Linked DNA regions of Homo sapiens: region 2 is linked to region 1. Evidence: fine-mapped expression QTL. A gene starts in region 1. The other region holds a variant in brackets. All regions are shown on one strand. Distances are from middle to middle. Region 1 holds the start of GDPD5 (glycerophosphodiester phosphodiesterase domain containing 5). Region 2 overlaps GDPD5 (glycerophosphodiester phosphodiesterase domain containing 5).

What was found. PIP is the estimated chance that this variant, and not a neighbour inherited with it, causes the effect. A credible set is the group of variants that fine-mapping cannot tell apart.
Region 2: its variant is the best candidate, but not a certain one, in a credible set for the expression of GDPD5 in whole blood (TOPMed, PIP 0.69).

The regions. Positions count from the first base shown.
Region 1 is chr11:75,522,881-75,528,248 of GRCh38, forward strand. It overlaps GDPD5 (glycerophosphodiester phosphodiesterase domain containing 5), which reads right to left and starts at 3,061. Exons shown (of 17, transcript NM_030792.8): 1 at 2,330-3,061. RefSeq lists enhancers at 435-484, 2,412-2,912 and silencers at 2,759-3,278, 3,329-3,388.
Region 2 is chr11:75,477,287-75,482,654 of GRCh38, forward strand. It overlaps GDPD5 (glycerophosphodiester phosphodiesterase domain containing 5), which reads right to left. Exons shown (of 17, transcript NM_030792.8): 3 at 333-509. The coding sequence starts at 449. Among named protein-coding and RNA genes, the nearest start is that of GDPD5, 46 kb to the right of the region's middle. The variant T/C (reference allele first, on the strand shown) is at 3,082.

The DNA of each region.
Region 1 (5,368 bases):
AAGCCAAGGGAGGGGGTAAGAATCCAGAGCCCCTTGCCGGTGTCCCCAAGCAGACTGATTCTAGAGGCTATGAGACTAGGGGAGTGTGACCCACACAGCAGCCTGAGCTGAGCAAATTCAGGTCTCTGAGCCTGCCCTGCAACCATATCCTGCGTTCTAATCGAAGACAAGTCTGAGAATTTCCCCAGACTTCCTGGTCAAACTTCAAGCTTCCTTTTCTTCATAGGGATGGAAACGGATATTTGGCCAGGCACTGCATCTTTGTAGCTCATTTAATCCTCGCAACAACCTGCTAAAGGAGGTATTCTAATTTTATAGGCTCAGAGGGATGAAGTGATTTGCTCAGTGCCACTCAGCTAGTGGGAGGCACAGTAGACTCACGCCCACCTGGTCTGTCTGATTTACCACTATCTGGGATTCACCAGTTACTGTGGCTCGAGGCTGCCGCTTAGCCCGTCTGGGTAACTTCCAGGGCACCTGGTATGCAGCTGGCACTCAAACAGTTCTACAAGCAAACTCAAAGGCCCTGGGGAAGTGGTTTTACCTCTCTGAGCTTCAGTTGCCCACACGAGACTGGGCCATTAATAACCTCCCCAGTCTTGGCAAGTACAACATGCCCCTTAGCACTTGACAGCCAGATGTGATGGCCCCACTAACTGAGCAGGTAACACACAGCCTGCCATAACCTATTTTAAAGTGGCACTTGGAACCATGGATGCATCAAGAGGTCACAAGTGACTCTGCAACCCTCCTCTGCTTCACTCTAGGTTCCAGGCTCTCTCCACGTCATGAAAGGAGATCACAGGTGTGAAATTATTTCATCAAAGAGCTTTGTTTAGACATAGAGATTATTGCGAGGATTTGAAGCCCCAGACAGAGGTCTGGGGTAGAGGGAATCCCAAGCCCCTCAGTCACCTTGTCTTTTGGGATCCCCTAACCCTTCCACCCCCAGGGATTGAGCTTCAGACTTCCACAGACCTCTCACCACGCTCCTCCACCTTCCAGGGGCTTTCCAAGGTGGTTTCCCCTTGACTCCAGGGAGTTGGGCATCTCTAGGGTTAACTAGGCCTAGCCAAGGCCACAGGGCCCAGACCAAGGCCATATCCCCTCCCCGTCCCCACACAGAATAAGAGCCCACAGAGTCCATGCCAAGGGCTCTTTCACAACACCCCTCTCCCTACATGCCTTGGGGGCAGCAGAAGCATCCCCTGCCTGGGAATAAAGACACCTGGGACTGTGCCCCAGCCCTGGGAGCCCCCAGCCTTGAGACCTTGAGCAGGTCCCTTCCTTCCTGGGCAGAGGTATCCTGCAGGTTCCCCTGCCCAGAAGAAAATGAGGTTGGACCTTCCATTTGGGCCAAAGGCAATGCGGTTGCAGGCATTCCTCGGGGCCCCAGCAACCAACCACACTAATTCTCACCACAGCCTCATACATGGTCGCCCAGATCTCACATCAGCGATAGGGAAAGCCCCAGCCACCTATCCAGAAGATCCTAACTGGGGAGGAGTGTGCATACCTTGAAGGATGCTCAGGAAGGTTTTCTCAAGTCTACTTGTGGCTCAAGGACTCACTGGCTTTAGGATCGGACAACTGGCACTCCCTTCGGGTGGGCCTCAGTGTCCCCATTAGTAATGTGAGGGAGGTGAGTCACGTGAGCCACATCTCCAGCCACCCCAGAGGGGCTACATCTCCAGCTCTGACAGACCCTTACTTGGGGATCTCTGCAGTGAATTCACCAACAGATAAGCACGTCTCAGGACCTCCAGAGTGTCTTAGAGACCCTGGAGTCTGACACACAAGGGCCAGGAGCTGCTGCTCTCACATCCTGGGCCCACAGGGAGAGAAGCTTTGGAACTGGGAAGCTTCCCACCTCTACCCTCAACTCTGAGTCACCTTTCCTCGCGGGTGACATGGCCAGGGAGCGGGAGGCAAGAAGAAGCCACTTCCTCAGCTTTAGCATCAGCGCTCAAGTGCTCTGCCTCTTCCCCCTCTATCCTCTCCCGCTTCCCCAGTCTCCTCCCCGCAGTGAAAGGAGGTCACTCAGCCCCGTTAAGCCTCAGTTTCTCCATCTGCAAGCGCCGATAATAATACACAACACCTATTTCAGGAGTAGCAGTGAGGCTTAGGCGGGGCGGGGCGGGGCAGGGCGCGAACCCGCACACAATGGGCGCTCAATAAGTACCCGTTTTCTTTCTTTCCCCTCCCCTTCCCGCGCCCCCTCCCAGCCAGTTCCAGCCTCTGCTTGTTTCCCCTGACACTCCCTCCGCTGGCCCCCGCGCTGCCGCGATGGGGTCGGGGACCGCTCCTGCCGCGCATCCGGGGCTCTCACCTGCAGCCTTGGCTCTCGCAGGCCGCCGGGACAGAAGGGGACCCCTGTGTTATCTTCGGGGCAGGCGCTGAACCCCTCACCTGAGGCGGGACGAAGGTGACAGCCTGGGCTCGCGGCACCAGCCCGGCGGTTCGGTCCGACTGTCCTGCCCGCCTAGGACCCCTCACCGAGCGCACGACCCGGCCAGGGCTTCCCGGGCGCTCGCGCTGTTCCAAGCTGTTCCAACTGAAGGTTGGGGTCTCGTGAAGCCAGAGGCTGGGGGGGTCCGGGGTCCCGTGCACCGGAGGCGAGGGCCTGGGGCCACACTGCGCTAGCCCTGGAGCTGGGGTTCCGACCCTCACTGACGGAAAGGCGCGGAGCGACCCTGCAACCACGGACCGGTACGGCGGCGTTAGGAGCGTCCCGTCCCGGCGCAGCGGGTCAGGGCCGGGGCTCCGCGCGTCCCGGCCGCACGCCCCGAACCGCGGGGCTGGGACGGGCAGGGCAGGGCAGGCGCCGGCGGGGAGGCGCGGCGGCCGGAGCCCCGCGGGGAAGTCTTTCCAGGTCCCGACTCGGCTCTCTCTGCAAAACGGGGCGAACCTCGGCGCGGCGGCCGACTCCCGAGCTCCCGGCCGCGGCTCCACTTCCTCCTCTTCCCCTGCTCCCTCGCCGCTCGCTCAGCGCCGCGCCGCTGCCACCTCCGCTGTCATCCCCGCCACCCACCCCCACCGGAGCCGCAGCCCGAGCTCAGCCGAAACAGCGCCGCCCAGCGCCCCAGCGCCAGCCTGCGCGGCCCCGCCCGGACGGGGCGGAGTCAGCAGAGACCCCGCCCCCGGCCGGCTGCGGGCAGGGGCGGGGTGCGCGCCCTCTCCCCTTCCCGGGCCTCGCGCGTGGGGCCGCAGGAGCCAATCCGAGGGTGGGAGCGGAGCGGCGCCCTGCGGAAAGCGGATTCTACCTCGGAGAGGGCGGGGCGGACAATGGAGAGGTGCGGCTGCAAGAGGACAATGGCGGGGCTGGGGGTTCGGAACGGGCCGAATCGGGGAGGGGGTTGGCCTCGGGACCCGGAAGGAGGGAGAGGCGAGAGGGCTGGCTTGCCTGGGACGGGGGCATGGGGACTGCTGTGCGGGGATTGCGGGGGTCACGGGGAAGGAGCAGGGGCCAGTGTAGGAAAAGAAGCCGGGGCGAGGCAAGGTGGAGGATATCCGGGGTCAGGGGTCCCAGGGACGCTGGAGCGAGCCCTCCTGAGTGGTGGGATGCCACCGACACCTTGCTTCTCCCTAGCTTCTAGTGCTCGGCGCTCAGAGGTGAGAGTTGGGCTGGGAAGTGTTCAGATTTCAGGAAACGGTGAAAAATAAGTTTTTGGAAATGAGCGAATTTGTCTTCCACAAGCCTCCCTTCCCTGCGCCCATCCCCGAGGAGGAGCGTCGTGGTCAATTTTAAAAATACGAACTCAAGAGCAGAGTTGTGTGAGGACACACACTTCGAATCGTGATGCATCTGCAGTCCGCTCCCGCCCCTTCCCACCCCGCGCGTTGGGTGCAGGAGCCGTCTTTATTTTCTATTTCATTTTATTTTGAGACAGGGTCCCGCTCTGTGGCCCAGGCTGGAGTGCAGTGGCACTATCACGGCTCACTGCAGCCTCGAACTTCCAGGCTAAAGAGATCCTCCCACCTGTGCCTCCGGAGTAGCTGTGACTACAGGCGTGCACCACCACATCTGGCTAATTTTTAAATTTTTTGTAGAGACAGGGTCTCCCTATGTTTTCCAGGCTGGTCTCGATCTCCTGGGTTCCGGCGATCCTCCTGCCTCGACCTCCCAAAGTGCTGAGATTATAGGTGTGAGCCCTGTGCTTGGCCAAGGAGCCGTCTTCAGTGTGTGCACAGGACCAGGCGCAGAGAAGGTGTTGGAGGGAACTGATGTATGAATGAAAGTTGAATGTGTGCCGCGGGGGAGTGGGGTAGGGACCATGTGAAAGCCGCTAACTGGCCTGGGGAGCTAAGGGATGTTGGTGGCACAGTACAGTCTCTTTGTAAACCTCACACCAACCTTATGTTGTGATAGGTACCCCATTTCACAGATGAGGACTCAGCACAGAGAGGCTAAGTGACGTTCCCGAGACCACACAGCTGGCACAGAGTTCTATCCACCCATCATTATCAAATTCTAGGGTAAAGCTGTGTGGCTTTAACAGGTTACTCTCCCTCTCTGAGCCTCTGTTTCCTCATCTATAAAAGAAGAATAAAGGTGCTACTTGGCAGGGAACCAGGTGAGGGACTGGGCAGGCAGCAGGCTTCAGAGGGTGAAGCATGGGCATTCCCTGCAAAAGAAATGGCATCAGACTATGGCTGAGAGACTGGTTGGAAGAACAAAGAAGAGGGTGAGCTGGAGGCTGAAGTTCAGGCTGCGGACTTGAGGGTGCCCTGTCTTCTTCAGGCCCAGGGGTTGGGAGTAGGCAAGTTGGGCCCAGGAAGTTGGGACTGGTCTCTGGAGCCTGAGGGCTGGGAGAAGGCAGTTTTGCCTTTACTTGTTGAACTTGACGCTAAGAAACCTTGTGGCCCTTCCCTCTGTCCAGAGCCCTCTCTGGCTCCCGGTTGCCAGCATGACCAAGCCCTACATCCCTAGCCTGGCGTTCCAGCCCCTTTGTTATTGCTCTCTGCCTGCTGACTCCACCAGCCTCATCTCCCCATTGCTTACTTCCCTCTCTACTTGCGCCAACTTCTCTCAGCTCCATCAGCAAGCAGGATGCATTCTGTCTCCATGCAGTTGTCTCCTCCATGTGTTGCTTTGCTGTTCCCCTTCTCTCTGGAGTTAATTCTCATTTCTCTGCTGGGCTGAAGGGCAGAACCTCTAGGCCAAATGCTCATCTGTTCTCTTCACTGCTGTATCCCCAGAGCCTAGCACGGAGCCTGGCACATAGTAGGTGCCAAGTAAACAATTGTTGAATAAATGACCCATCTCTCATGAGATTTATCAAGATTTATCTCCACCAAGATTTATCACCACCTCCGAGAAGCCTTCCTGAACTCCCCCAGGCTGCCTGCCTTTGGTCTGGGCTCCCTC
Region 2 (5,368 bases), 46 kb before region 1:
TTTGCCTGCCTGCCTGCCTGTCAAGATCTGCCAGGAAGCTGAGAACTTCTGCTCACCTTGGGGTGACCCTTCCCTTCTAGAGGAGCCCAACCTCAACAATGTCAGAGGAGAGTTAACAACTTGTCAACAGGACAAACTCCTTCCATGCCCTCCTGGTCAGTAGATTCAGGAATTACTATAAGCCCATTTTACAGAGGGAGAAACTGAAACCCAGAAAGGCCATTGGCCTGTCCAGAGCGAGTCAGCAGAGACAGAGCTAAGACCCCTCCCCCAGCCCCTCAGGCTTGCTGGGGCTCACTGGGTCCCTCTGACCCTGTTCCAGGGTGGCTCACCGGTGTGGTATCATCATGGGAGCGCTGGTAGCGCTTCCAACGGCAGCCGTAGATGCCCGTGAGGCAGGAGAGGCACAGCTGTGGCTCGTAGTACTGCAGGGGCTGGTGTCTCACCATACTCGTGCCCACGGCCCTGGCGCCTGGCCCTCAGGCGCCCATGGAGGCCCCCAGCTTGTCCTGCAGGAGGAAGCACAGGGCAGTGAGGCAGGGGAAGGGTGAGGAGTCAGGCACCACACAGCAAGTCATTGTAGCCTAGGTCAGGGAGGGTCACCCCTGCTCAAAGCACTGCAGTGGGGCTCCGTCTCACTTGGAGTCACAGGCCCACCCCTGCAGGTCCCCAAGGACCTGTCCTCTGCCTCCCACCCAGGCCCTCATCCTCCCTACTCCTTCCCCTCCAGCCACTCCTGACCTCTTCCATGTTCTTCACTGGCCTAGCATGCTGCTGTTCCCTCTGCCTGGAATGCTCTTCCCTTAGAAACCTGCATGGCTTCCTTCTCTTTCCCCTCCTCTCTTCAGGTCTTAGCTCAAATGTCCTTTTCTTTTCTTTTTGAGACAGAGTCTTGCTCTGTCACCCAGGCTGGAGTGCTGTGGCACAATCTCGGCTCACTGCAACCTCTGCCTCCTGGGTTCAAGCAATTCTCTTGCCTCAGCCTCCCAAGTAGCTGGGATTACAGGTGCCCACCACATCTGGCTAATTTTCGTATTTTTGTAGAGCTGGGGTTTTGCCATGTAGGCCAGGCTGGTCTCGAACTCCTGACATCAGGTTATCCACCTGCCTCAGCCTCCCAAAGTGCTGGGATGACAGGCGTGAGCCATGGCACCTGGCCACATGTCCTTTACTCAATGAGACTGTCCCAGATCACCTTCTGTAAAACTGTAGCCCCTTCCCACATTCCCTAAGCTCCTTCCCACATTCTCAGCTTTGTTTTCTCAATCATGTCCTTAAATATAACTTGCTTATTTTTCCTGTCTGTCTACCCTACTATAATGCAGTTTTCATGAAGGCAAGGATTTTTGTCTGTTGTATTTTCTGCTGTATTCCCAGTAACTTGAACAGTGTCTAGCACATAGCAGACTTTCAAAATAAACATTTTAGAAGAAATTATCATATAAGCTGAGATGTGTTGAGCACTTAAAATACACCAGGCACCGTGTAAATACTTTACATTCATTGTTCCATCTCATCAGCACAACCATCTGAAGTGGCAGGTTCTGTGTCCTAAACCCATTTGACAGTTCAACAAACTGAGGCTCAGAGAACAAGGAGCAATGCCTGGCTGCTGTCCCATAACTGGACTGTAGTCAATCTAGGAACTGCTCTAGTGCCCCAAAGTATTCATTCTCCAGACACAGGGAGCTCCCTCACCGGGTGGGGCCTGTGGGAGGATGGTATAGCAGCAAGAGGTGTCTTGAGGGTTGAAGTGTGGCTGCCAGAAGCTACTGCCCCAGCCCTGCTTGGCACCCTGGAGATATCTGTGGGAGCCTCGGCCTCTGGGGGCCAGTGTTGGTAAAGTGTGACCAGGTGGCAATGGGCTTGGGGCACCTCACACACCCTGAGTATCAGGTGTCATCCAGTCCTCCACACCACTGTGAGTTATTCTTATTCCATTTTGCCGATGACAAACCTGGGGCTCAGAGCAGAGAAACTATTTGCCCAGAGGTGCACAGCTATACTGAGGTGTCAGGACTCCAACGCTGGCCTGTGGGACTCCAGAAACTCAGTCATATGTTCTGTACCAGGCCCTGTCCGAGGCCCTGGAGACAATGTGAGCAGGACACACAAAGGCTCCTAGGGCCCTGAGAGGGCCAAAGAGGGGAACAGCCAGGCATTGTTCCAAGTGCTTTCCATGCAGAAACTATAACAGCAGCCCTAGGAAGGAAGGAAGGATTTGCATTTAAAAAATGGAGATATAATTCACATGCCATAAAATTTACCCTTTTAAAGTATACAATTCAGTATTTAATATACAGTATTCAATTTTTGGTATATTCACAAGTTGTACAACCATCACCACTATCTAATCCCAAAACAGTTTCACCATCCCAACAACCCCCCACCCCCTTCTCATGCACTGTAACTCCCTATTTACCCTGGCTTCACTCCTCTGGCCCTGGCAACTGCTCATCCACTTTCTGTCTCTATGGACTTGCCTATTCTAGAGACCTCGTATAAATGGAATCATACAATATGTGACCTTTTGTGTCTTGCTTCTTTCACGTGGCATAATGTTCTCAAGGCTCATCCATGTTGTAGCATGGATCAGCATTTCATTCCTTTTTATGTCTAACATTCTGTTGTATGGATCTACCACATTTTGTTTATCCATTGATCAGCTGATGGACATATGGGTTGTTATCACTTTTGGGTTGTTATACATAATGCTTCTGTGAATGAGTTTTTTGTGTGAACGTGTGTTTTCATTTCTTTTGGGTACACATTTCTTTTGGGATAGAATTGCTGGTCACAGCACTTTGGGAAGCCAAGGCAGGTGGATCACTTGAGGTCAGGAGTTCGAGACCAGCCTGACTAACATGGTGAAACCCCATCTCTACTAAAAATACAAAAATTAGCTGGGCATGGTGGTGGGCACCTGTAATCCCAGCTACTCGGGAGGCTGAGGCAAGAAAATCGCTTAAACCTGGGAGGCAGAGGTTGTCAAGATCGCACCACTGCACTCCAGCCAGGGTGACAGGGCAAATCTCCATCTCAAAAAAAAAAAAAAAGAATTGCTGTGTCATATGGTAACTT[T/C]TGTTTTTGAGATAAGGTCTTGCTCTGTTGCCCAAGCTGGTGTGCAGTAGTGCAATCATCGCTCATGGCCACCTCAGACTCCAGGGCTCAAGTGATCCTCCTGCGTTGCTGGGACTACGGGTATGTGCTGCCACACCTGGATCATATGGTAACTTTTATGTTTAACCTTTTGAGGAACTGCCAAACTTTTCCAATGTGACTGCACCATGTTACATCCCCAAAGTATCATCATCATCATCCCCATTTTATAGATGAGAACTCTGAAGCACAGAGAGGTTGACCCACTTACCAAAGGACACCCAGCAGAGCCAGGATTCATACCCACGCAGGTTGGCTCCAGGGACCTTGCTCTAACCCATGGGCCTGCCAAATCTGATCTGCCACCTATTTTTGTACAGCCCAAAAGCTAAGAATAGTCTTTATGTTTTTAAATGGTTGTGAAGAGTCAAAACAAAAATATCTTGTGACATATGAAAATTATATGAAAGTCAAATTTCAGTGTCCATAAATAACATTTCATTGGACGCAGCCATGCTCATTCATTTATGTATTGTCTACGGCTGTTTTAACTGTAACTGCAGTGTTGAGTAGTTGCCACAGAGACCATATGGCTTGCAAAGCCTAAAATACTGACTGTCTGGCCCTTTAGAGGGAAAGTTTGCAGACTCCTACAGTGACTGGGCTCTAATGGCCCACGAGCCTTATGGTAAGTGCAGTGTATGATGGAGGGAGGAAAGGGAGCCTGTGGGCACTGACCAAAGTGCAGGGAGGGTCAGAGTATGCTCCCTGGAGTCAGCACTGAGCCAAGGCTTGGTAGATGAGCTCCTAAGATGCCACTCTCCAAGGCCCCAGGGGCTGCACCGTAGGAGCACGCTGGGCTTCAGGCCCACTCACTACTTCTACCACCAGGCCTCACTCAGGGCCTCTGCCTATCCCTCCAACACCACCACCCAATGCTGACTTCACCTCAGTGCGGAGATTACAGCCTGCAGTCTGAGGGGGAAGATGCATTAGGGGCTTGCTGGGAATACTGAATGACCCAGAGTCTCCTGAGTGCTGGGAATTGACTGCTGCAGCCTCTGTTCCGGGGAGCCCTGGGGAGGCCTGTGGACTATGGTGCAGCTGCTGGGGCTTCCCTGAGCCAGGGCCTGGGGGACAGGCTGGGGTGGGGACACAGCTTGGCTCCCATGGGGCTAGAGAGACCATGGGTGGGGGTTGGTGTAGGGTGCTCTCAGCTTTACTATACTCCAGATTTGGGGAGTGCTGCGTGCCCACATAGGCACCCCCACATTCCCAGCCTTCCCGCAGGGGTGGGAGGCCAGGGTCCACAGCCAGGGGAGCCAGATCTCACCCTGTGCACTCCCTAGACAGGGTTCTCTACTGTCATGTCAGCCACTACATCTGCCCCCGCCTCCCCAGGAAGGGAGGAGGCGGGTGCAATGTGGAAAGAAGCCTAGCTTCATGCTGCCTCGCATTGACTTGCTCTGTGGCTGGGGCCACTCAGGCTCTTCCCTGAGCCTTGGTTTCTGAATCTGTAAAAGCAGGTAACAGCTGCTGCCTTGACTTCTATAGGACACACAATTGGGGGCAGGGAGGGGGAAAAGTGCCAGGAGGTACTGCAATGCTGAGGTACAACAGGTGGACATCCTGCAATGCACGTGGGAGCCCGCCCCAGGTTCCCCTGCCTTCACACTCCTTTCCCGGGACCCCCCTGCCCCTGGGACTAATTCCCACATGTCCTCTGCCGCCCCTCCCCTGTCCCCACGACTGCACATTACAACCCACCCAGGAATGGAAATTCCACTTCAAACCTGGAAAAGAGGGAAGTAGAAGTGCATGCGTCATGCCTCGGCCCAGAACTTCGCTGATACTGGCTCTCAGAGTCTCCTCTCCCCCTGGTGCATTTTTGTCCTGTTCATAAGTGTAGGGGATTCTCTGGGAGGCAAACCTCTTCTTTCTCTTCTGTATGCTCTCCTGGCTGCAGCCATCTTGTCCACTCTCACGGCTTTAGTTACCAGGTGCTGCCAAGGCCACCCAGGCTCTGCCTCTGATCGAGATAGCCAGCAGCTCCTGGATGTCTCCAGCGGTGTCACCCAGGCCTTGCAGACCCAGTTCAGCCACACTGCCCTCTACCACCCTTTTCTCAAGGCCCTTTTCTCGCCATCCCCACAGCCACTCCCCTGTTCAAGGCCTCATCTCCCCTGGCTGGGGACTCCTCCAGATTCCTTGCTTTCAGCCCCATCCCTCCAATCCAAACTCTTACCTGCAGCTGGACTGAACTTCCTAA